Linked DNA regions of Homo sapiens. The protein of the gene in region 1 interacts with the protein of each later gene in a biochemical or structural test. Each region holds a gene or a part of one and is shown on either strand. Other genes may lie near its edges.

Region 1 (8,320 bases):
GATAGAGTAGATGGTGATTCATGCTGGAGCTGTAATTCTGGGCCTGACCTTTGACTGTCTTTAAAAATCTTTATTGCTAGATGCCAGTGGAAGCTGAAGCTATTACAGAACTATTAAGGGTGTGGCAATTATGCACCCAAAGTCAGAACATCTGTTTTTAACTGGGAAACCTGTTGCTTCCTTGCTGTTGATTTCCTAGATGTGTGTGTGTATGTGTTTTCTGCTTAAGTAATCAGAAAGGACTAAGGAAGATAAACGGAGGCTGGAGAGTGCCTAGAATTGTTACTGCTTGGAAGTAGGTGGTTGGTTGGCCCCAGAATCAGGATTCTGGGTGTTTTTAGGTCAAGATGAAGGCTACAAAGCAAAGGGTTTTTTTGTTTTCGCCCCTGCGATCTAGGTGGAGAAGGAAGTTATATATGTGAATGTCATGCCCATCGTGTTTTGGTTTATCAATTTGTGGAATTCTAGGTGGTGTCTTGCAGTGAGATATTCTCCTCAGAAGGGAGACCTTTGAGTACTTTCACTGTAAGGTTCCAGGGGAGGGACTTGTAGAGAATTAGTAATGCCTGGAAGGAATGAGTTCGCATGATGCAGTTTGTTTACGATGGGTGGGTAAGTCTATTTGAGAAGACGGCCTGAAACTCACAGGGGCAAGGCTTATGAGGTGGTCTCATGGTGTGAGTGTCCCAAAGAAGAGAAGTAGGATGGTTCTTTTAGTCCACCTGCCTTTTGTTGATTCATGCATTCAACAGACACTTGTTGAGCCTACACTGTGTCCTGTTATCCAGGGTATTAAAGAATCAAAGGTGAATACGGGCATGGTTTCTGCCCTGAGGGAGCTCAGGAGATACGTGGAAGAGGTAGGCAGGCAAAAAATAATTATATACATGAGATAAGTGCTTAAGAGGGATGGCTAATGCACAGAGCAAAACCCAGCTGTCATTGGATTGAGGGAGGTAACAAAAGCTTCCCAGAGGAGAAAATCTGAGCACCTTTCTCTGCCTTCATTTTCAAGCCCTTATTTCAAATATCTCTTGTATTGATTAGGTCTCTTTTGGTTGTAAGAAAACCCAGTTCATAGCAAAGACGGGAATTGATTGGCTCATAAGTGACCAAAAGAGCCTCTAATAAGTAGTGTGGCTGCAGATTTGGCTTCTTCTGGGGGTTCCACTCTTTTTTTTTTTTTTTGAGACGGAGTCTGGCTCTGTCACCCAGGTTGGAGTGTAGTGGCGCGGCTCACTGCAGCCTCCACCTCCTAGGTTCAAGCAATTCTCCCGTCTCAGCCTCCCAAGTAGCTGGGACTACAGGCCTGTACCACCATGCCCGACTGATTTTTGTATTTTCAGTAGAGATGTGGTTTTGCCATGTTGGCCAGGCTGGTCTCAAACTCCTGCCCTCAGATGATCTGCCCACCTTGGCCTCCCAAAGTGCTGGGATTACAGGCATGAGCCACTGCGCCTGGCCTCGGTTCCACTCTTTAGGTAGGCACTGTGTCCACTGGGAGACTTCCACATCTTCCAAGTCTCAGAGGGAAAGAATACTCATCTCGCAGTCACTGTGGCCCGAGTCCCAGGATTGGCTCTGAATGCTTCTGGGTCACATGCCTTTCCCCAGAAATGGACTGGAGTCAGCGCACCCAAACCATATGGACTGAGAGTGGATGGTAATGGGTGGTAATCAGGCAAGAAATAAAGGTCATGGTGTGTCTTTTGTAGCCCTGCTAAAAAGAGAGATGTTTTGTTTCTTGAAAACCCTTAGATGCAGATCATCACCAATGGTGTTTTTGGGGAGATGATGTCTTGAGTAGAGGAAGGAGTACACTGGGATGAAGACCTTGAAGTTACAGAAGTATCAAGGAGAAAAAAAATTTGAGAGACAACTAGGAGAGCATAGTACTGAGGCTCTGATAGGGAGTGTCTCCTTGGGTGTTGATTTCTTCCCTGACTGAAGTTTCCCTTGGAGGTCTGAATGCTTTCACAGATAGTTGTTTTTTGAGAACCCAAGGTTGTAAACCCAAATGCCTAGAGGGCGAGGCCAGTAAAATGAATCAGTGCTTTGGGCCATGTGAAGGCCTCAGGGGACCTGGAGGACTGTGTCCCACCAAAGGGGCTGCTGTGGTAATGTAGGCCCAGTGTGGACCACCTGTGGAGTTTTCCTGAAATCTGCATTTTAACTAGCTGGCGTTTAATCCAAATTAAACTACGGGGACACTATATGCAGCTGAACAAAATATTTCTGTGGATCACCCAACTGCTTGTCTAGAAGGACTCAGAAATTGACAGTCCCTCTTTTTCATTTATTCCCCTGTACCTTACCCTGATGTTTTCAGTTCTTTGGATTTGTTGAAAAACAGCTCATCCTTTCTTTACTAAAATCTTGAAAAGGTCTGATAGTAACAGTCTATAACATTTCTATGGTGGTTTAGTTTACAAAGTGCTGTACTAAACCACCTGGCTTGGATTTCGTCTCCTGACAATGATAACTTCTCTCTGACAAAGATGGAAACCTGGCTGGGTGGGGTGGGGTGGCTCACGCCTGTAATCCTGACACTTTGAGAGCCCGAGGTAGGAGGATCACTTGAACCCAGGAATTTCAGACCAGCCTGAGCAACATGGTGAAACCCGGTCTTTACAAAAAATACAGAAAACTAGCCAGGAGTGGTGGTGTTTGCCTGTCTCAGCTGCTTGGGAGGCTGAGGTGGGAGGATCAACTGAGCCTGGAAAGTCGAGGCTGCAGTGAGCTGAGATCATGCCACTGCACTCCAGTCTGGGTGACAGAGCAAGACCCTGTCTCAAAAAAAAAAAGAAAAAAAAGAGGAAGAAACCTGACTTTCTAAGTTTGCACAGTTACTGAGTAGTGGCTGAGGCATGGCTTGGGTCCAGGGCCTCTTCCTGTGGTTCCCAAGTGCTTTTGAGTACAGGAACTGGGCTGCCTCTTCACCAGGGAAGGATTAGTGTTTATTAATGTTTATTAAACATCTTCTGTGCTTATGAAGCTGCTGGGCTTGGTGCTTTGCATACTTTTATTTCATTGCATTCTCATAGCCACCCTCTGAGGTGATGTTACTTATTTCTGATTTAATGATGAGGAAGCCAGAGATCAAAGAGGTCATCAAGCTCGCAAGAGACAGAGCCGTGGACCCAAACCCAGGTTTCTGATTCTGCAGCAGCTATAAATTCTGATCACAGAGATCTAATGACCTCTAGGAGTCTTCCACTCCTAGGAGGTATGTAGAATGGACCACTCACTAGGTAGTTGGATCCACTACCAGCAATGTGAATTCTCACACTGAGTCAAAATGTGTCTCTACCTACTGATCCCAGAACAGTCCCCTGCTGCCGAATTGAATGAATCTCATCTCTCTTCCCTGAGTCAGCCCTGCCTGTATTTGATGATCACAAACCTTATCCTTACGTTGCCAGCAGTAACATTCTGCATCCCTCACCCACTCCACTGTGTCCTTTTCCTCCCACTGATCTTCACTCTACCTTTCCTTCCCCCCACCCTTTTTTTTTTTTTTTTGACGGAGTCTCGCTCTGCCGCCCAGACTGGAGTGCAGTGGTACAATCTCGACTCACTGCAACCTCCACCTCCTGGGTTCAAGCGATTCTCCTTCCTCAGCCTCCCGAGTAGCTGGGCTTACAGGCATGAGCCACCAAGCCTGGCTAATTTTTGTATTTTTTAGTAGAGATGGAGTTTTGCCATGTTGGCCAGGCTGGTCTTGAACCCCTGACCTCAGGTGATCCACCCACCTTGGCCTCCCAAAGTGCTGGGGTTACAGGCGTGAGCCACCACGCCTGCCCACTCTGCCTTTTCTAGGGGAACTCTGAACAGTATTTCTGAGAAGGGATAGGTAATGTGTGCTTTGCTTCAATCTGAGTGGATTCCATCAACCTCTCCATAGAGCAGGGTGGAAAGAGGTCCTCTTGTCGTTGCAGCAGCTTCTCAATCTCATCTTTTATGGCCTTATTATGTAGTTTACATGTTAAGAAATCCAGAAGTATTTATAGTTGAGTGAAAATCCATTCTTTACTGGGGGGAAGAAATGAACTCTAAAACCATAAAAATGATGAACCAGTAGAAAATTTTCATCTGTAAATTTGAACCATAAAAGGATATGTTCATTTAGCATCATTTTTATATGTGTAAGCGGCATGTTACGCTATTATGGAATTGCCTTTGTAGCAGAGTGGACGAGGCAAAACCTTCCAAGTTTGATTATGGCCTAGGGCGCTGCAGTCAGTACGTGCACCGTGCATTTTTGTCAGACCACAGGATGTTTCACCTTTATCATTCTATTTCAGTTTCTCAAGTGTAGGTAGATGCTGTAGTAACTAGTGAAGTACAAATCCATGTAAAAATGTTAAACTCTCATCTGTTCGCTGTGTTTGTATTTTCTTAAAGGTAGGGATTAAAAGTGTAATAGGCCCACAGTCCCTTATCTGGAATCATTGGGCCAGATAAGTTTTAGAATTCAGAATTTTTCAGATTTTTCTAAAAGTAATAATATGCATATATTGTTGTTATGTAATACTTCCAGTGGGGTCTGGGACAAAATCCCATAATCAAACATTAGTATAGCAAAATATATATACATATATTCCCACTGAATGGATATGCATGAAGATTATGCATAGTTTAATATCAGTTCAGGTCAACTTTTATTGCCAAATAAGTTACAAAAAAAGATTTGTTTTTTAGAACTTTTTGGATTACAAAATGGTGATAGGGATTGTGGACTTGTCTTACTTTTAGTTATATACCTATTGAGAGTCTGTTAAATTTTTTTACTGTAAATAATATTTCCCATATTCCCAAAGGTTGGAAACCACAATCACATAAGCAGGGGTCACAAACCGAAGTGCCAGGTTGGGTAAAATAAATAAGTGAAATGGGAGGCGGGTATAGGACAGTAGGGAATGTGGGGACTGCAGTGAACTGGTGAATACATGTTCATTCAAAGGGGAGAGCTGCTCTTCAGTTCTAGCCACTTGTTGCCATGGTGAACGTGGGAGTAGTGAAGCTACATCTTCCATTTTTGATGATACTCCAGAATGCTGATTTTCATGTGAAGTTTCTTGATATTTAAATGTTGGCAACTAAAAAGAAAAAAACCCACTGTTGGCCAAAGAAAACATCTGAAAGCATTATCTGGCTGTGGGCTGCCTGCTTTCATTTGTAGTTTAGAGACTAATGCTTGTGGTATGAAAAGTTGTCAGTGAGCCGGGTGCAGTGGCCCATGCTTGTAATCTCAGCATTTTGGGAGGCTGAGGTGGGAGGATCACTTGAGACCAGGAGTTTGAGACCAGCCTGAGCAACATAGCAAGATCCTGTCTCTACACACGCAAAAAGTTTAGCCAGGCATGGTAGCATGTGCATGTAGTCCCCAGCTACTTGGGAGGCTCAGGTGGGAGGATCGCTTGAGCCTGGGAGGTCGAGGCTGCAGTGAACTGTGATCCTGCCACCGTGCTCCAGCCTGGGTGATGGAGTGAGACCCTGTCTCTAAATAAGTAATTTGTCAGTGGCATTCGTAATGAACTACTTTCTTGAGATATGGATGGGTGCATTTGCTTTATTGTTATTCATTATGCTTTACATACACACTATATGTTCTTTGCACATAAAATATTTCATAATAAAAATCTAAAGAAGTTGATAAGCACTTTATTTTAGCATTGCCTTATTTTCTAGCCATTAGGAAATTTTCATCTGTAAATTTGAAACTTTAAACTTATTTATCTTGGAAAAGGGACTGAAAGCCCCACTTCAAAAATAGGAGCCCTCTTTTTAAAAAGTAGGAGTTAAAAGAGGTTAGATTGTAATGTTCATTCCTTTCCAGGGCCATAGTGATCTGAAGTAACATTGGGTATTCACTGTTATATTGCGACAGAGAAATGTCCTCGATCTCCTTTCTTCTCAGACCGTTCCCCTGGGTGATCTCAGCCCCATAACTATCACCTCATGGTGACAGTTTTATGCCTCCAGCCCTGGGGTCTCTTTATCCCTAGAATGATGCTATCATCTCTCTCTTGAAAAATCTCTGCTGACATGGCCTGATAAAATTGAACCCATGAACTTCTTCCTCAAATTGGCTTCATTTCCCTCTATCTTCTAGTCTGTGAGTCACGAGACTTTGGCCTGCAGGGTAAATCCAGCCCACCGCTTGCTTTGTGAAAAAGTTTACTGGAACACAGCCACTCACTACAGTGGCAGGGTTGAATAGTTGCAACAGTGACCCATATGGCCTGCAACGCCTATGGTATTTATCCTCTGGCACTTCATAAGAAGCATGTGACCCCTGCCCTAGGGCATTAAATGCCCTCACACCCTCCCTAGTCACCTGTCAGTCCCATTCTTTTTCCTCCATCATCTCAGTCAGGTGAGGAGACTGGAAATTCTGCCTCTTTGATTATCTTTTTCTTTTTTTTTTTTTTTTTGAGACGGAGTCCCTCTCTGTCACTCAGTCTGGAGTGCAGTGGCATGATCTCGGCTCACTGCAACCTCTGTCTCCCGGGTTCAAGCGATTCTCCTGTCTCAGCCTCCTGAGTAGCTGGGACTACAGGCGCACACCACCATGTCCGGCTAATTTTTTTTTTTTTTTAATTTTTAGTAGAGACAGAGTTTCACCATGTTGGCCAGGCTGGTCTGGAACTGACCTTGATTATCTGTTGACTTCATCTTTGCTTCCCAGAGGCCATCCTTCCTGTTACCTTAATTAGGTGCTCATTATTTTTCACTTGGAGTCAAATTTGTCTTCCAGTTGGCTTTGCTGCCTTGAGCTGGCTTGAGCTGGATTGTATCTACAATTCCCCAACCTTCTGTTTGACATGGTCGGTCACCATTTTAATGATTATAGCTGCTCACCTCTAAATTACTTTTTCATGATGAATTCTCTAGAGGTTAGAATCACTAGATTTATAGGAAATTAATGTTTATATCATGACAGTATTGCCAGGTTGTCTCCTAAGATGATAATGCCGTCATTTAGTTTGTAGTGCAGAAAGTGATGTTGCGCAATAATGTGTGTCATTATGCATGACATGATGAATATCACATTTCACCATCACCTTAGTTGCATTAGATATTGTCCTTAAAAAATTTGTTATCTATTTAAATTTTTTCCACTAAGTTCAAAATGAATGTGTTCTTACATTTGTATTTCTTTATATGAGTTTTCTCTGTATGTGTCATTTGTTTGTCATGGAATTAACGTTTAGTTATCAGTTTCATTGCTCAGTTACCAATTTAGTTCAACAAATGTCTCTTGAGAACCTGTCAAATGATAGGGGCTGGGGTTAAAAATATAATTGATCCCTGGGGACTTGAATGTGGAGACAGAGCTACAAACAGATAATCTGAATGTAACCAGTTTTATCTATTCTAGCAGATCTTAGGTGCTGTTAATGAAATCTTAATGCCATTCTTTGATGTATTTATGTACTTTAATATAAACAAGTTAGCATTCTTGTTCATAGATATGTTCCTCAACAGATACAGTGATGAAACCTTGCACATTCATGACTAGGTACAGATTTAATACAAGTTTCAGAAGATAAAGCTGATTCTATAAAAAATCTAAGATTTCTATAAGAAACTGTCTTTTAAATAGGTAGAGCCTATTATTTATAGCAAATAAAATAATAGGCATGTTTGATATAAAAACAATATTCAGGCTGGGTATGGTGGCTCACGCCTGTAATCCCAGCACTTTGGGAGGCCAAGGCGGGTGGATCTCCTGAGGTCACGAGTTTGAGACCAGCCTGACCAATATGGTAAAACCCCATCTCTACTAAAAATACGAAAATTAGCTGGGCATGGCAGGCAGGCGCCTGTAATCCCAGGTACTCAGGAGGCTGAGGCAGGAGAATGGCTTGGACCCAGGAGGCCGAGGTTGCAGTGAGCCAAGATCGCACCACTGCACTCCAGCCTGGGCAACAGAGTGAGACTCCATCTCAAAAACAAACAATATTCAGTTCATTTCAGCCATGCATCTTGTGAGACTGTGTTTCCTCTGTGTTAATTACAGCTTATTGATTATTTGCATTGGCTACTTCCTTTTGATTATCCCAAGATGTTTCTCTCTTCCTCTCCTTTCCCACAGCTCTTCTTTTTGGACGTCTTCCTTATCAGAGATACCTTTTGGTTTAGTAGTCAATTTGATCTCTCCTTTAATGTTTCATTAGCATTTCTTCTGTAGTTACTCAGTGTTCTTCCACATGGTTTGGCCAAATTTATACTTCTTAAAGAGTTTAAATTAGAAATCACAGACCAAGTAAACAGGTGCTCAAATGAATATAAATCTTAAATAAATGTACAGAAA
Region 2 (7,000 bases), on another chromosome or scaffold:
TGAATGGCCTGGTGCCTAGTTCAGCACACAGCACACCACACGCAATACATATTCATTTAACATTCAAAAGGATGAATGCTTGAGAGTAAAACTACAAACCAGCAGCCACTAAGACGATTTGTCCGCTAATCAGAGGATCCTGAGTAAGAATTTGAGCTTAAATCTAACCCCTTCCTGGCTGTGCAACCTCAAGCAAGTCATTTCAGCCCTAAGAACCTCAGCTTCCTCCTCTAGGAAATGGGAATAATTATCATTAATAAATACCATCCCCACAGGCTTGTGGCAAGGCTCAAAGCAGAAATGGATATGGAAGTAGAGGGGGTACTGCCAGTGTCCTTCTATCAGGTGGGGTACCCATCTCTCAGCAGCTGTGGGTGCTGGCTGCTAGCAGCTCACAGCTGCCCCCTTCCCCTGAGAGCTGCCCTTGGCTTACAGGAGCTGCCTCATCTGGAGATGCAGGGGGAGGCTAGGCCCTTCCCCGGGAGCAGCTTGCAGACAATGACCACCAGCTAAGGGGCTACAAAGGCCTGGCCCCTTGTCTGGAGGAAGGTAACCCTGGGAGACTGGCTGTTCATAATCTAGAGCTCTCCGTGGGATCCTAGCTGTAAGCAAATCTTTTCCCGCTCTAATATGAGCATGCCTGCAATAAATCATTTGCCCGGGAATCCTTGTCTCAGCTCTGCTTCTAGAAGACCAGACTTGAGACAGGAAGTATTTTGTAAACAATGACACACTAGGCACAAATATGTGTTTTTTTAATTTTTTTTTTAATTTTAGGAAACATTGAAAGTAGAGGAGCTAGCAATGTGAGAGGAGGAGGCGGTCAGCTCTGTGGGCAGGGGTGAGGGGTAGGGGAAGCCCAGTCATGCTGCTCTGCCCCCACCCAAACCCTGCCTTCATGGAATGCTTGGGCAGGTAAGGGGGACAGACAAGAAACCAACAAGAGCATAATGTCAGGGATAAGTGCTATGAAGATGATAAAGTAGAATCAGGAGATGGGGGACAACGAGGGCTGTTTTTGATAAGGTGGTCTGGGAGGCCTCTCTGAGGGGGTGATGTGGGTGGAGATGTGAACATCATGAGCCATGTAGGCCTTTGGGGAAGAGAATTCCAGGCATAGGGAATAGGAGTGCAAAGGCCCTGGGGCAGGGTGTTTGATGGGTCCAAGAAATGACCTGGGGATCAGTGAGGCTAGGATGTATGAGAGAAGGTCTGAGGTATTGGGCAGCCGGATCACATGGGGTCTTGCAGGCAATTATAGGGCTTTTTTTTTTTTTTTTTTTTTCTGAGACAGAGTCTTGCTCTGTCACCCAGGCTGGATGCAGTGGTATGATCTCAGCTCACTGCAACCTCTGCCTCCCAGGTTTGAGGGATTCTCCTGCCTCAGGCTCCTGAGTAGCTGGGACTACAGGTGTGTGCCATCACACCTGGCTAATTTTTGTAATTTTAGTACAGATGGGGTTTCACCATGTTGGCCAGGCTGGTCTGAAACCCCTGACCTCAGGTGATCCACCTGCCTCGGCCTCCCAAAGTGCTGGGATTACAGGTGTGAGCCACTGCATCTAGCCTGTTATAGGATTCTGGGCTTTATTCTGAATGGGAGGGGAGTCATTGAAGAGCTTTAGCAGAGGAAGGATGTGATCTGATTTAAGTTTTAAAGGACCTTTGGCTGGTGAGGCAAGGACGGGGCAGGAAGACCAGGTAGAGGCTGCTGCAAAGATCTAGGAGAGGATAGTGGAGGCTCAGAAGGGAAGGCAGCAATGGAGGTGACAAGAAGTGGGTGGATTCTGGGTGTTTTGAATGTAGAATTGAAGGACTTGTTGATGACTAAATGAGGTGTCAGGGACAGACAAATGCAACTCCCAATTTACAGAGAGGACAGAAGAACATACTAAATAACACCACAGGGATGCAATCAACAAAATCCAGTCTGCAGGAAACACAGCAGGACAAACCACCTGCTTCCTCCCATAGATAAACTGCAAAAGAATAAGAAAAGATGGAGAGGAGAACTGTGGATTGAAAGAGACTAAGACATATCAACCAATCATAACGTGTGAACTTTACCTGGAACTTGATTTAAACAATTTAAAAAACAAAAAGACATGTCTGAGACAACAGGGAATGTGAATACTAAGTGAATATTTGACTATATAAAGGAATTAATACTTCTTAGGTATAATAATGGTATTGTGATTGTGTTAGAAAAAGTCCTTATCTTTTAGAGAAATATCTTGATTGAGATGAGATTGGACATGTGTTGGTATCTGTTGATGCTAAGCCATGAGTATATGACTGTTATATAACATTTTCTCTACTTCTGTAAATGCTTATAATATTTCACAATAAAAAGTTTGCAAATAAAAGACAGAAGAGGAAACAGAATCCAAGGGAGGGGGTTGAGTGGCCCTAGGCCCCTCAGTGAGTCAGTGTCAGGGCCAGGACCTCAGCCTGGACCCCCAACCCCCAGCCCTCCAGCCCTGCCTCGGCTGCCCCTCTTGTCCTCAGTGGCTGGTCAAGGCTAGACCCCGGGAACCCAGTGATGAAATGTGTGACCTCAGGGAAGGCCCAGATTAGGCAGAGTGGGGCTAAGGGATGCAGGGTCTTTGCCAGGCCCTGCAAGGAGAAGCAGCCCTGGGCCACCTGTCCCACAAGGTCCAATGAGGCTGATCATTTAAAGTGCCCTGCAGCAGCAATCCAAGCTGGCTGCCCCACCAGCCTCACGACCCATGTCCTCTCTCGTGTTCCTATGCTGATTTCCTCCCCAGCCCCTGAGACCACCACTCACATTCCAGCCTTTGCATCTTTGTCCCTGCTGTCACTCTGCCTGGAATGTACCCCCCCGCCCCCCGCCCCGTCTCTGGATCTGACCAGCCTTTCCTTCCAGGTCTGCCTTCTGCAGAAGACAACCCTCCTTCAGTCTTCCAGAACACACCTGCCTCCAGTCTCTGAGACAAGAGATTATCCCCATTCCTCGACGACAGGTGCTGAGGCAGAGAGGCTCACAAGCACAGCTTCTGGAGCCAGACTGCATGGCTGTGAATCTGGCTCAGCCACTTACTGTGTGACCTCAGGCAAGTCACTTAACTTCAGTTGCCCCATCTGTAAAATGGGGATAACCCCATGAGCTTACTAAGAGGACTAAATGAGTTATAAATATGGATAAACAAAAGAGCGCCTGGCACATGTCAGGGATCCCCGGCCCCTCCTTTGTGCCCCTACAAGACTCCCCAGTGCTACACAACCACCACTTTGCCAGATACCCCACTTCTGCCATACTCCTTCTACAGCCCTCCTGATACCCAGATGTTACCTTACCTTACCCCCTTTCCCATCCCGCCAGGTTTCAGGCACCACAGGCCTGGGAGGAGGGAGAGGGAATATAAGCCCATGAGGGGACCAGTTAGGAACCAACCACAGATAAAAACTCTCCAAACACACGTGGCAGCATGTGACTCACATGCCATCAGATTAAGGGGAATGGAGTTTACGTGCTCATTTTTTTAGGTTTCTAAGAAAAAAATTCCCAGTATCATCAAGTGCAGTTTTAATTGTTTTCTTCATGAGTAATGATATTTGTTTATAAAATGCAAACAGCACAGAATGGCTGAAATAAAGAGGACGCATTCTCCCTCCAGATCCCTGCGATAGGCCTCAGCCCAGAGGCAAGCTCTAATCACAATCAGGTATGCAGCCTTCTACACATTGTTATGTAAATATGAACAGAGAAGAACATATGTACATGTACTTTAAAAATTGTATCATACTACACACATTGTTCTTTTTTTTTTTTTTTTTTTTTTTGAGACAGAGTCTGGCTCTGTCTCCCAGGCTGGAGTGCAGTGGCCCGATCTCGGCTCACTTCAACCTCCGCCTCCTGGGCTCAAGCGATTCTCCTGCCTCAGCCTCCTGAGTAGCTGGGACTACAGGCGTCCTTCACCACACCCAGGTAATTTTTGTATTTTTAGTAGAGACAGGGGTTTCACCATATTGGCCAGGTTGGTCTCGAACTCCTGACCTTGACTACACACATTGTTCTACAAAGCCACTTGCTTTAACTTATCAGTACGTGATGACCATCTTTCCACACTGGTAATAAGCTCCGCCCCATCTTGTCTCAGTGTCCCCAAGCACCTAAAGTGGTGCCTGGCAGGCAGCGACATTCAGAGATCCATTGATTAAATCCCAGAACGAACAACTGCCCGAAATCACAGCGTACAAAGAGGTCTTGACTTTGTCACTGGTCCTCCTGACAGACATCTAGCTTTGCTACACTGACTGTCTCTGCCCAGCTAATCTTTGCACCCTGCTCAGAGTGTACCTGTGGAATAAGTCCCAAAAAGTGGAATTGCCAAGTCAAAACTGTGACCACTGTTGCCAAAAACACAGTGCTAACGTATGCTCCCCGACTGACGTGAGAGTTCTAGTTTCCCACGCCCTCCGCCAAATGAGAGCTTTCTTAGGAGGACTTTTATTTCTCAAATGGATTACCCCTATTTAGTGATTCCACCCTTGATCACCACATCTCCCTTTGTCCCACCTGCATAAATGAGAAAACTATTGTTTTATTATTTCTCAGCAGCACTAAGGAGCCAAAATCCACAAATAAGGGACTACTCTCTAGCCAGTATAGAAAGTTAACAGATGGGAAATTTGGAACATCTCACCTGTTTCTAAAAATGGATGTGTTAATGTTTTAAAACTGTCAACTTCAAACAAGTATCTATTGATTCTTCCCCCACACTCAAGAACAGAAAATTCTCACCCTCTCTCTCCACTCCTCCCTACCCCAGCCTACAGTGGCCACATTTAGTCAATAAAAATTCAGGGCCAGGCGCGGTGGCTCATGCCTGTAATCCCAGCACTTTGGGAGGCTGAGGCGGGCAGATCACTTGAGGTCAGGAGTTTGAGACCAGCCTGGCCAACATGGCGAAACCCCATCTCTACTAAAAATACAGAAAAATTAGCTGGGTGTGGTGGCCGGCACCTGTAATCTCAGCTACTCAGGAGGCTGAGGCAGGAGAATCACTTGAACCTGGGAGGCGGAGGTTGCAGTGAGCCTAGATCGCAGCCTTGCACTCAAGCCTGGGCGACAAGAGCAAAACTCCATCTCAAAAATAAATAAATAAAATAAAATAAAAATTCAGGACACCTAGTTAAATCTGAATTTCAGATAAATGACAAATACAGTTTTTTATTAAAAATATGTCCTATGCAATGTTTGGGACATACTTAGACTAAAAAACAACAAAAACACATTTGTTGTTTTTCTGAAATTTAAAATTACCTGAGTATGCTGCATTTTATATAGAAAGACTACCCTAGCCCCTACCCAGCATTTTAATATCAAGTTATTTTTAGCCTGGGCAACACAGTAAGACCCCATCTCTACAATAAAATTGAAAAATTAGCCAGGCATGGTAGCACTCAGCTACTCAGGAGGCTGAATGGGAGGATCCCTTGGGCCCGGGAGGTCGAGGCTGCAGTGAGCTATGATGGTGTCACTCACTCCAGCCTGGGTGACAGAGCAAGACCCTGCCTCTAAAAAGAAAATAATTATAACAATATCGAGTGATTTTAAAATAATAGCCAAGGTAGGCCAGGTGCGGTGGCTCACACCTGTAATCCCAGCACTTTGGGAGGCCGAGGCGGGTGGATCACGAGGTCAGGAGTTCAAGACCAGCCTGGCCAAGATAGTGAAACCCTGTCTTTACTAAAAATACAAAAATTAGCCGGGCGTGGTGGTGGGCGCCTGTAATCCCAGCTACTCAGGAGGCTGAGGCAGAGAATTGCTTGAACCCGGAGGTGGAGGTTGCAATGAGCCAAGATCGCGCCACTGCACTCCAGCCTGGGTAACAGAGTGAGACTCCGTCTCAAAAATAATAATAATAATAATAATAGCCAAGGCCTCCCCTGCCCTCCCAGTTTTCAGGTATCCTGCAGCCCCTCACACCCAAGGTTGAGGTCTTCAGAGACAGCACCCAGGGGAGGGTGGAGGGGAGCCCCCGACCCCAGTCTCCAGCCCAGCCCTCCCCTCCAGGCCACCCTGCCCCTGGCTGGAAACCAGCCACAAAGTGTCCCCAGCAGGTGGGTCTGAAGTGGCTAATAGGTTTTCTTCATTTGGCTTTCCAGTACATTCTAAATTGCTCCCCACAGACACGCTCCTTTTCTGGAAACGGCACCAGCAACTTCCCTGGCATTAGAGGTCCTGTCTCCCCAGAGCCAGCTGAGGCCAGGCTCCGGTTGATCTTGTCCCTTCAGCCCACCTCTGGGTTCCTCCCAACCCATCTTTCCTGGTGGTGAACACTACCTGTTGCCCCAGGGGGTGGGTGCTGTCAGCAGGCGACCTCAGTGGGCAGATGCTTCAGGGACTGCTGCTACCACAGAGCCACCTGCAGGAAGGCACACCCAAACCCTGTGCCTGATGGGCGCAGGATGCTGGGGTCTAGGGCCTGACTCTCACAGGCAAATGGACATGACCTGAAAGGCCACTCTAGCCCCAGGGCACCCTGTTGCCTGTTGGGCTGCATCAGAGTCCACTTCCCCTTCATCCAATCCCACTTCCTTCCCTGCTTTCCACAGTGAAGCTCCGGGACCCCTCCTCTACCTGCCTGCCAATCCTCACGGCTACTTCCTGGGACCCTGACCTGCCCGCCAAGTCCCCAGCCCAGACCTCCCCTCCGGTCCATCCTGCCCCTGGCTGGAAATCAGTTACGAAGTGCCCATGGTGGGTGGGTCTGATGTGGCTAATGGGCTTCCTTCATTCGGCTTTCTAGTACATTCTAAATTGCCCACAGCAAACCTATATTACTTTGGTAATAAGAAAAAATAATAAAAGCTATTTTTCTTTAAGAAAAATGTAAAACCAAACCAAGCAGCATCCTTCTTATCTGGTATACCCACTCGTCCCCCAACCCCTCCACCTGGTTCCCCAGGGAGGGCCCCCCAAATCAGTGAATGCCCCCACCCCTCATGTCCTCTCCTGTCCCTTCTGTCCTTC
Region 3 (7,000 bases), on another chromosome or scaffold:
ATATTTATCCACAACAAAGAGATGTACAGTGCTTTCGTATACAGTGATTTACAGTTTTCCATGTGCTTTTACATGTATTATTACTTCATTTGATCCTTACAACAACCCCAGAGGTAGATGTGGCATGAATTACCATTATTCTCCTTTGAGAAGAAGAAACTGAGCATCAAAGAAGCTTGTTGGCCTTCTTGCCAGAAATCACCCAGTTTGTAAATGGTAAAAGAGGGCTTGAAACCAGGTTCTCTGACTCTGACTTCAAGCACTCTCATACATCATCTATTTAATTTTTTGGAGCTAGGTATTTTATACTTAGGATTCTAAATATTGCATAACCATTGAATGCCACACCACCCTTGTATTCAGTGCAAAAAATGGGACTTTTCTTAATAAATAGAGAAATGGAGGTGCCTAAAATTACAAAATTGCACTAGAGAGATAGTGATAGAACTGGGAAACTCTTAGTCTAATATTTTATCTTTTATTCATATGATGGAATACTAAGCTCAATTGTATTACTAATATTGAAACAAAATACAAACTTTCCTTTGTTTCTTTGTTATTTGTCTTTCTTTCCTCCCTCATCCCCTTCCTTCTTTCCTTGCTTCCTTCCTTCCTGTCTCCCTCCTCCCCTCCCTCTCTCTTTCTTTTCTCCCCTTCTATCCATTTTTTTCTTCTTTTCTCTCTACGTTTCTCCTTTCTCTTTCTTTCTCGTTTCTCTCTTCCTTCTTTCCTTTTCCTCCCGTCTATCTCCTCTTCCTTCCTTTCCTTCTTTCTTTGGAAACATTTATTTTCCAAATAATTCTCACCGTTTTTGAGCTGGTGAATCCACCGCTTCCTTAGTTCTTCAGTTGGGGAGAAGACGTAGAGAGGCCCTTCATCATATACAACCTGGGTCGATGAAAACACAGACTTCAGCAGTTAGGATTCAGAAAAAAGGAGAAAGACCTTGAAAGTACTAATCTTAGGGGACAATTTGTATATTTATTGTAGAAAACAAAGAAAGGCAGAATCTTCAGTCAGCAATGGTGTTCAGGTTATGTGAACTATCTGAAGGATTCCTGAACTCTTCATATCTAGGAATGTAGCGTTTAAAAGCTCTTAGAATTTTTCATACTCTTAGGTCCTCCTGACTTGTGCTTCAATTCATGCATAAACTTATTTTATAAGGTCTCCGTCTGCCCTTGCTGGAGATAACATTTTTGTTTATCCAACAAAGGGTATTTTATCTTATTATTAAATTCTGACTTTGTATAGAAGAGAAATGAAGTGATAATCTATATAAATTAAGTCTTGATTAGTACATATGGGTTATTCACTTGGATAATATGGAGTAAAATTTTAATTCATGGCTAATTACCTCCACCTCCACTACCTAGTGGCCTCCCCTCACCAATATTAGCCAAAATAAATCAAATTTGGAACTACAAACCTACTTCAAAAAGGGTAAGGTATATAATAAGCAATATCATCAAGTCAAATAGTATTTTTTTAACCATGTACAAGGCATCATGCTAGGTGTTACGAAGATGCATGAAATATATAAGATGTGGTTCCAACCCTCACAGAGTTTATAGACATCACATAATAAATTCTGAAGTCAAATATAAATTAATTTAAAATTATCTGCTGTTCAGCATTGTTCACTAGTGCAGCCAAACAATGTCATCTTGTTGAAAGGCATTGGTAGTAAAAACTGTGTCTGAAATACCCCTCTTTCAAAGGTTTCGTAAATTTGATATAGTCAGGGACACGAACAAGATCCTTTTACATTTTTCTTTTTGCTTGTTAGTCTTGCTGTGCTCATAAATCCATGACAGAAAGCCCCCTCCCCTGAGACTTTCCACTTCCTTTTCTGGCTTTCACTGTTGCAGAGGCTGCTATATTCACGACATGTGGCCTACAGAGTTCTCAGGATGTAAGCAAGCCAAACTGAAGACCAAATTTGTAGTTCTTGCTCTCCTAAACAGATGCATATGTGGCACTTCAGCTCTTCCAGATTACAACAGAATTTAGGTTTATGCATAAGTCTAATAAGTCTTCCTCATACTGAACTTCCTAATACTACTCCCCTTTTCTATCTTTTCAACCCACATGACCACTATTAGACAGATAGTCAGAACCAGAAGGAAGTGAAATGCTCACTCAACAAGCAGAGCATCTTTCTCAATGCAGTTATCATAGACAAGACACACTATGATAGAATTGGTGCTGCTATGTATTCTTTTTGAGGTATAGAGACTAAAAGAAACTATGTTAGATTAGGTAAATAGAAAAGCAAACATTCTTAGCCCATGCCAGTCTCATTTCTTGGTTCAGCATCCTTGTCCACCTCAACTTCTATTCACTGGGTCCTCGTAGCCTTCCCTCTGCCCTGCACCCCACCACCCCTTCTAATTGTGTTACAGGGGCCTTTCGAGATTTGGTGAGAGAAAATAACTCACCTGGAAGGGATAAGGGAACCTTTCAATGATTGAAATTTGCTCCATTTCACTGGACTCTTCACCTCTTCTCTGTAATGAAATAAGAAAAAATGGTTATTGGTTGATGCATTGCTCTTTTCTGAATTTCCTTAGGTACTAGAAGCCTTTTGCTGTGGCTTCAGAAGTTTCTCCTGCACAGACAAGGCTGATTCTTAGTGATTACTTTCTATAGGCCAATAGGGACACATATCCAATACGACCCAACACATACCCAGTCAAGAGAGACTCAGGTATTTCAAATCACTGGGAAAATGGAGGTTTCTAAAAAATTGTTGTTGGGACAAATATTTAACCACTAACGTTGTGGGGAGGAGAGGAGTTAGGTAGCTATGCTACACCATACACCAAAGAAAATTCCAGATGGATTCAAGAGCTTAATATAAAAAATAAAACTATGAATGACTGAGAGTAAATATAAGCAATTATTTATATAATCCTGTGGGAGGCAAGCTTTTTCTAATATAAGGATGAAACTTAGAACTATTAAGAAAAACCTGAACTAATTTGATGACATAGACTTTAAATCCCTATATGGCAAAAAGCATCATAAACAAAATTGAAAGATAAAGGATAAACTGAAAAACATTTTCAACATACTTTACAGTTAAAGGATAAATGTTCTTATATCAAGATCTCTTTAAAAGTATTAGAAATGAGGTAAACATCTCAATGTAAAAAATGGACCAAAAATTAATGGGCAATTCACAAATAAAATATAAATGAGCAGTAGACCAACTTTATGAGTAAAAGAAATTGCAAAATAAGTTAGCAATAAAATGCTATTTTTTTTTTTTGAGACGGAGTCTTGCTCTGTCGTCCAGCCTGGATGTGCAGTGGTGCGATCTCGGCTCACTGCAACCTCCGCCTCCTGGGTTCAAGGGAGTCTCCTGCCTCAGCCTCCCGAGTAGCTGGGATTACAGGCTCGCGCCACCATGCCCAGCTAATTTTTGTATTTTTAGTAGAGACGGGGTTTCACCATGTTGGTCAGGCTGGTCTCGAACTCCTGCTCATGATCCGCCTGCCTTGGCCTCCCAAAGTGCTGGGATTACAGGCGTGAGCCACCACGCCCCACCTGAAATGCTATTTTTCTTGGCTGTCAAATTAACTAATATTTAAAATATCTAGTGTTGGGCTGGGCACAGTGGCTCACGCCTGTAATCCCAGCACTTTGGGAGGCCGAGGTGGGAGGATCACTTGAGGTCAGGAGTTTGAGATCAGCCTGACCAATCTGGTGAAACCCCATCTCTACTAAAAATACAAAAATTAGCAGGGTGTGGTGGTGGGCGCCTGTAGTCCCAGCTACTCAGGAGGCTGGGGCAGGAGAATCACTTGAACCGGAGGCAGAGGTTACAGTGAGCGGAGATCGCACCACTGCACTCCAGCCTGGGCGACACAGCGAGACTCCATCTCAGAAAATAATAATAATAATAAAAATAACAAAATATCTAGTGTTGGAAAAAATGTACAGAAACAGGCACTCTCATACATAGCTTGTAGGTGTGTATGAAATTCAATTCCACTTCTAGAAAATGAAATAAAAAGATAAAAATAACCAAAGTGCACAGATTTTCTTAAAGAGAAGAACAAAATTTTACTTCTAGGAAATTATCATAAGGAAAAGAATAAAAAAAGTACAGAAAGATGTATGCAAGATTGTTCCTCTCAACATGGTTTATACTATCAAGTACTTGTAGACAAACCGAATGTGTAATAATGGGAGATTAAACAAATTACAATACATCCATAATAGGGAATACCATACAGTCATTAAAATCATGTTATTAAAGAATATCTATTGTCATGGGGAAAAGTTTCCCACATATCGTTACATTGAAAAAGTACGTTACAAAGCAAGATGTGTACTATGAGTCTATGTTTTAAATATATGACATATATATAAGTGTATGCGTATGTGTTCTCAGTGAAGAAAAACATCTGTAAGTCTATGTACACCAATATGTTGATAGTTGTTTTAACTGGGTAACAGGATTATGCATCATTTTAATCTTTTTGTATTTTTTATATATTCCAGAGTTTCTGTAATAAATACGCAATTCTCCTGTGATCAAGAAAATACTGAAAATGGTCAGACCCAGTGGGTGGCTCACGCCTGTAATCTTTGCACTTTGGGAGGCCGAGACAGGCGGATCACTTGAGGCCAGGAGTTCAAGACCAGCCTGGCCAACATGGTGAAACCCCGTCTCTACTAAAAAAATACGAAAAATTAGCCAGGCATGGTGGTGCACACCTGTAATCCCAGCTACTTGGGAGGCTGAGGCATGAGAATTGCTTGAACCCGGGAGGTGAAGGTTGCAGTGAGCCAAGATGGCACCAGTGCATTCCAGCCTGGGCAACAGAGCGAGACTCTGTCTAAAAAAAGAAAAAAAAAAGAAAAAAAGAAAATACTGAAATTGATATATATTTTTTAAAAGTGAACTCAAAAATCAGTAGGTTTTATGTCTCTCGCTCCGGAAAGTGAGAAGAGAATAAATAGTAAGGTATTAAAGGATATCATGTGACTCAGAGCCCTAGGATTATGACATTCAGACTTACTTAAGCCTCTAAATCTGATCCTGAGAGAACTGAGGGAATAAAATCAATGATCTCTGACCAGTTTGAAAACTAGATATAGCATCATTTAAAAGTTTGTGTTAACAAATTTTCCATGTTTAGTGAGATGTTCTGAATATGAAGGAAAGAAGCTAAGATTCTTTATAACCAATATGGTAGAGTGAAGAATTTTTAAAGGAAACTTGACCGTGTTCCACGTTGCACAGCATCACCAGTCTATTTACAGAGAATTTAAATGTTGCAAATTTCTTCAAATCTGCTGTTCCCCATCTCAGACATTGGTCTCTTCTTACCGGAATCTGTCTTTCTGGAGGAGGATTTTTTTCAGGAACCACTGTTTCAACACAAGTGATCTTCTCAACATCTATTGAACCCTTCTTACTGCCTCTTCTCTGAGAAGTAGAATGAGGAAGAAAATGGAGAAAGATTAAGAGGGATTAAGCAACCAGATGATTAGATTTTGTTATCTAATCATTCAACAAAGTGAGGTGGCACCAGGACCTGTCATGTGGGGGAAGAAAAAAAAATCCTTCCAGATCTATAAATCTATGACTACCAAATGGAGGGCAAATACCATGGAAGAGTGAATGACTGTATGTACCTTCCTCATAGGAAGTAAGGAAGCAATTTCCAACTCTTCGATTTCATTTTCAACAATCATTTAATGAGTGCTCATCAATTCCAAGATTCCATGGTAATATTTTCCTTGTGGCTTCTTAGGACCTTTGACTTTCCGGCTTTAGCTAGTTATAGGCTAGGAAATATTTTGCTGAATTTGAAAGAACTTAGGTCCATTCTACTCCCCTCCTCCTACCAACGAAAATTTACCTCTTCCCCAAGAAAGATCTAAGGCCAAGTCCTTGATATCTTGAAACTCAGTTTTCATAGTCGAGAAACTTACCCCACGTTCAAAGTCATACTCATAGTAGGAGAGTTTGTGCACGGTCAAGAGAAACAGGCGCTTCTTGAAGTTTAGAGGTGATGTTTTCTTTTTCTGTTGGGATCGCTTCAGAAAGATGCTCTCCAGAATCACTGCGGCCATAGCTTCTTCTTTCTGGAGTTCACCTGTGTGCTGTTGATAATGAAAGTTCCTGAGGACCCAGGACATTAATCCTCATCCCTCTTGGTTCCCCCTCAGCCTAGCTACCTAGTTTCAAATGGAACAAAAATGTGCACAGCTCACAAAATAATTTCTTCCTACCAACCTCCTCCCACAGCCCCCAGCTCTGTCAGGTTTCAGGTATAATGGATGCACACTGAATTGGGGGGGGATTGGTTCGATGTTGTGAGCTCATATAAACTGAGTTCTTGTATAAGGCAATGGAATGCTCTAGATGTTAAATGGCACGCACCTGTGTGCTTGGTAAGGTGTAGAGGTAGCTTTACACTATTCACCTTTATATGATATGTGTAGAATCTGTGAAAAGCAAAAGTATCTGTGCAGCTGTTGATCTTGATATACCCAGAAGGGATAATGCAGGTGCCAGAACTCCACTGAGGCAGATATTGGACTTTCAGTTCCCAATTTCCTAGACGGTGAATATAATTTTTCAAACATTGTCCCACTGGGGTCTGTAACCAAGGGAACTAATAAGGATATGGAGGCTGCACCTGCAGTTCTGGACACACACTAACTGCTGCCCAACTGATTTTGCCCACACCCACTGACTGAGCTACAAAGGATAGAAGATTTGTTCTAAAGTTGAAAACATAATTTTTTTTGGTGGGTTTTGGTGGGGGGGGGGTAGTTGTTGTTTTCTGACCTTTTCCCCATTTAGCTTAAATTAGTTCTTTTAGACAGCATCATGCAAAAGTGATGCAACTGTCTTACTGATATAGATGCCACCTCTGTTCATTTATGAAACACAACTTATTTAGCCTCCCCAAACCTACAATACTCCAGAAGGATTCAATTTAGGTAACTGAAACACAGAAAGACAAATAAAGTT

The links.
Region 2: the proteins of ARHGAP17 (region 1) and PACSIN1 form a complex in vitro, tested with the Homo sapiens proteins (one study listed by BioGRID).
Region 3: the proteins of ARHGAP17 (region 1) and BTK form a complex in vitro, tested with the Homo sapiens proteins (one study listed by BioGRID).

The regions. Positions count from the first base shown.
Region 1 is NC_000016.10:25,004,567-25,012,886, reverse strand, and holds part of ARHGAP17 (rho GTPase-activating protein 17), read left to right. Parts: intron 1-8,320. UniProt on the Homo sapiens protein: Rho GTPase-activating protein involved in the maintenance of tight junction by regulating the activity of CDC42, thereby playing a central role in apical polarity of epithelial cells.
Region 2 is NC_000006.12:34,469,076-34,476,075, reverse strand, and holds part of PACSIN1 (protein kinase C and casein kinase substrate in neurons protein 1), read right to left. Parts: intron 1-7,000. UniProt on the Homo sapiens protein: Plays a role in the reorganization of the microtubule cytoskeleton via its interaction with MAPT; this decreases microtubule stability and inhibits MAPT-induced microtubule polymerization.
Region 3 is NC_000023.11:101,369,192-101,376,191, forward strand, and holds part of BTK (tyrosine-protein kinase BTK), read right to left. Parts: intron 6,124-7,000; coding exon of another isoform or gene 6,094-6,123; coding exon 5,953-6,093; intron 5,444-5,952; coding exon 5,345-5,443; intron 2,511-5,344; coding exon 2,442-2,510; intron 889-2,441; coding exon 807-888; intron 1-806. UniProt on the Homo sapiens protein: Non-receptor tyrosine kinase indispensable for B lymphocyte development, differentiation and signaling. Binding of antigen to the B-cell antigen receptor (BCR) triggers signaling that ultimately leads to B-cell activation.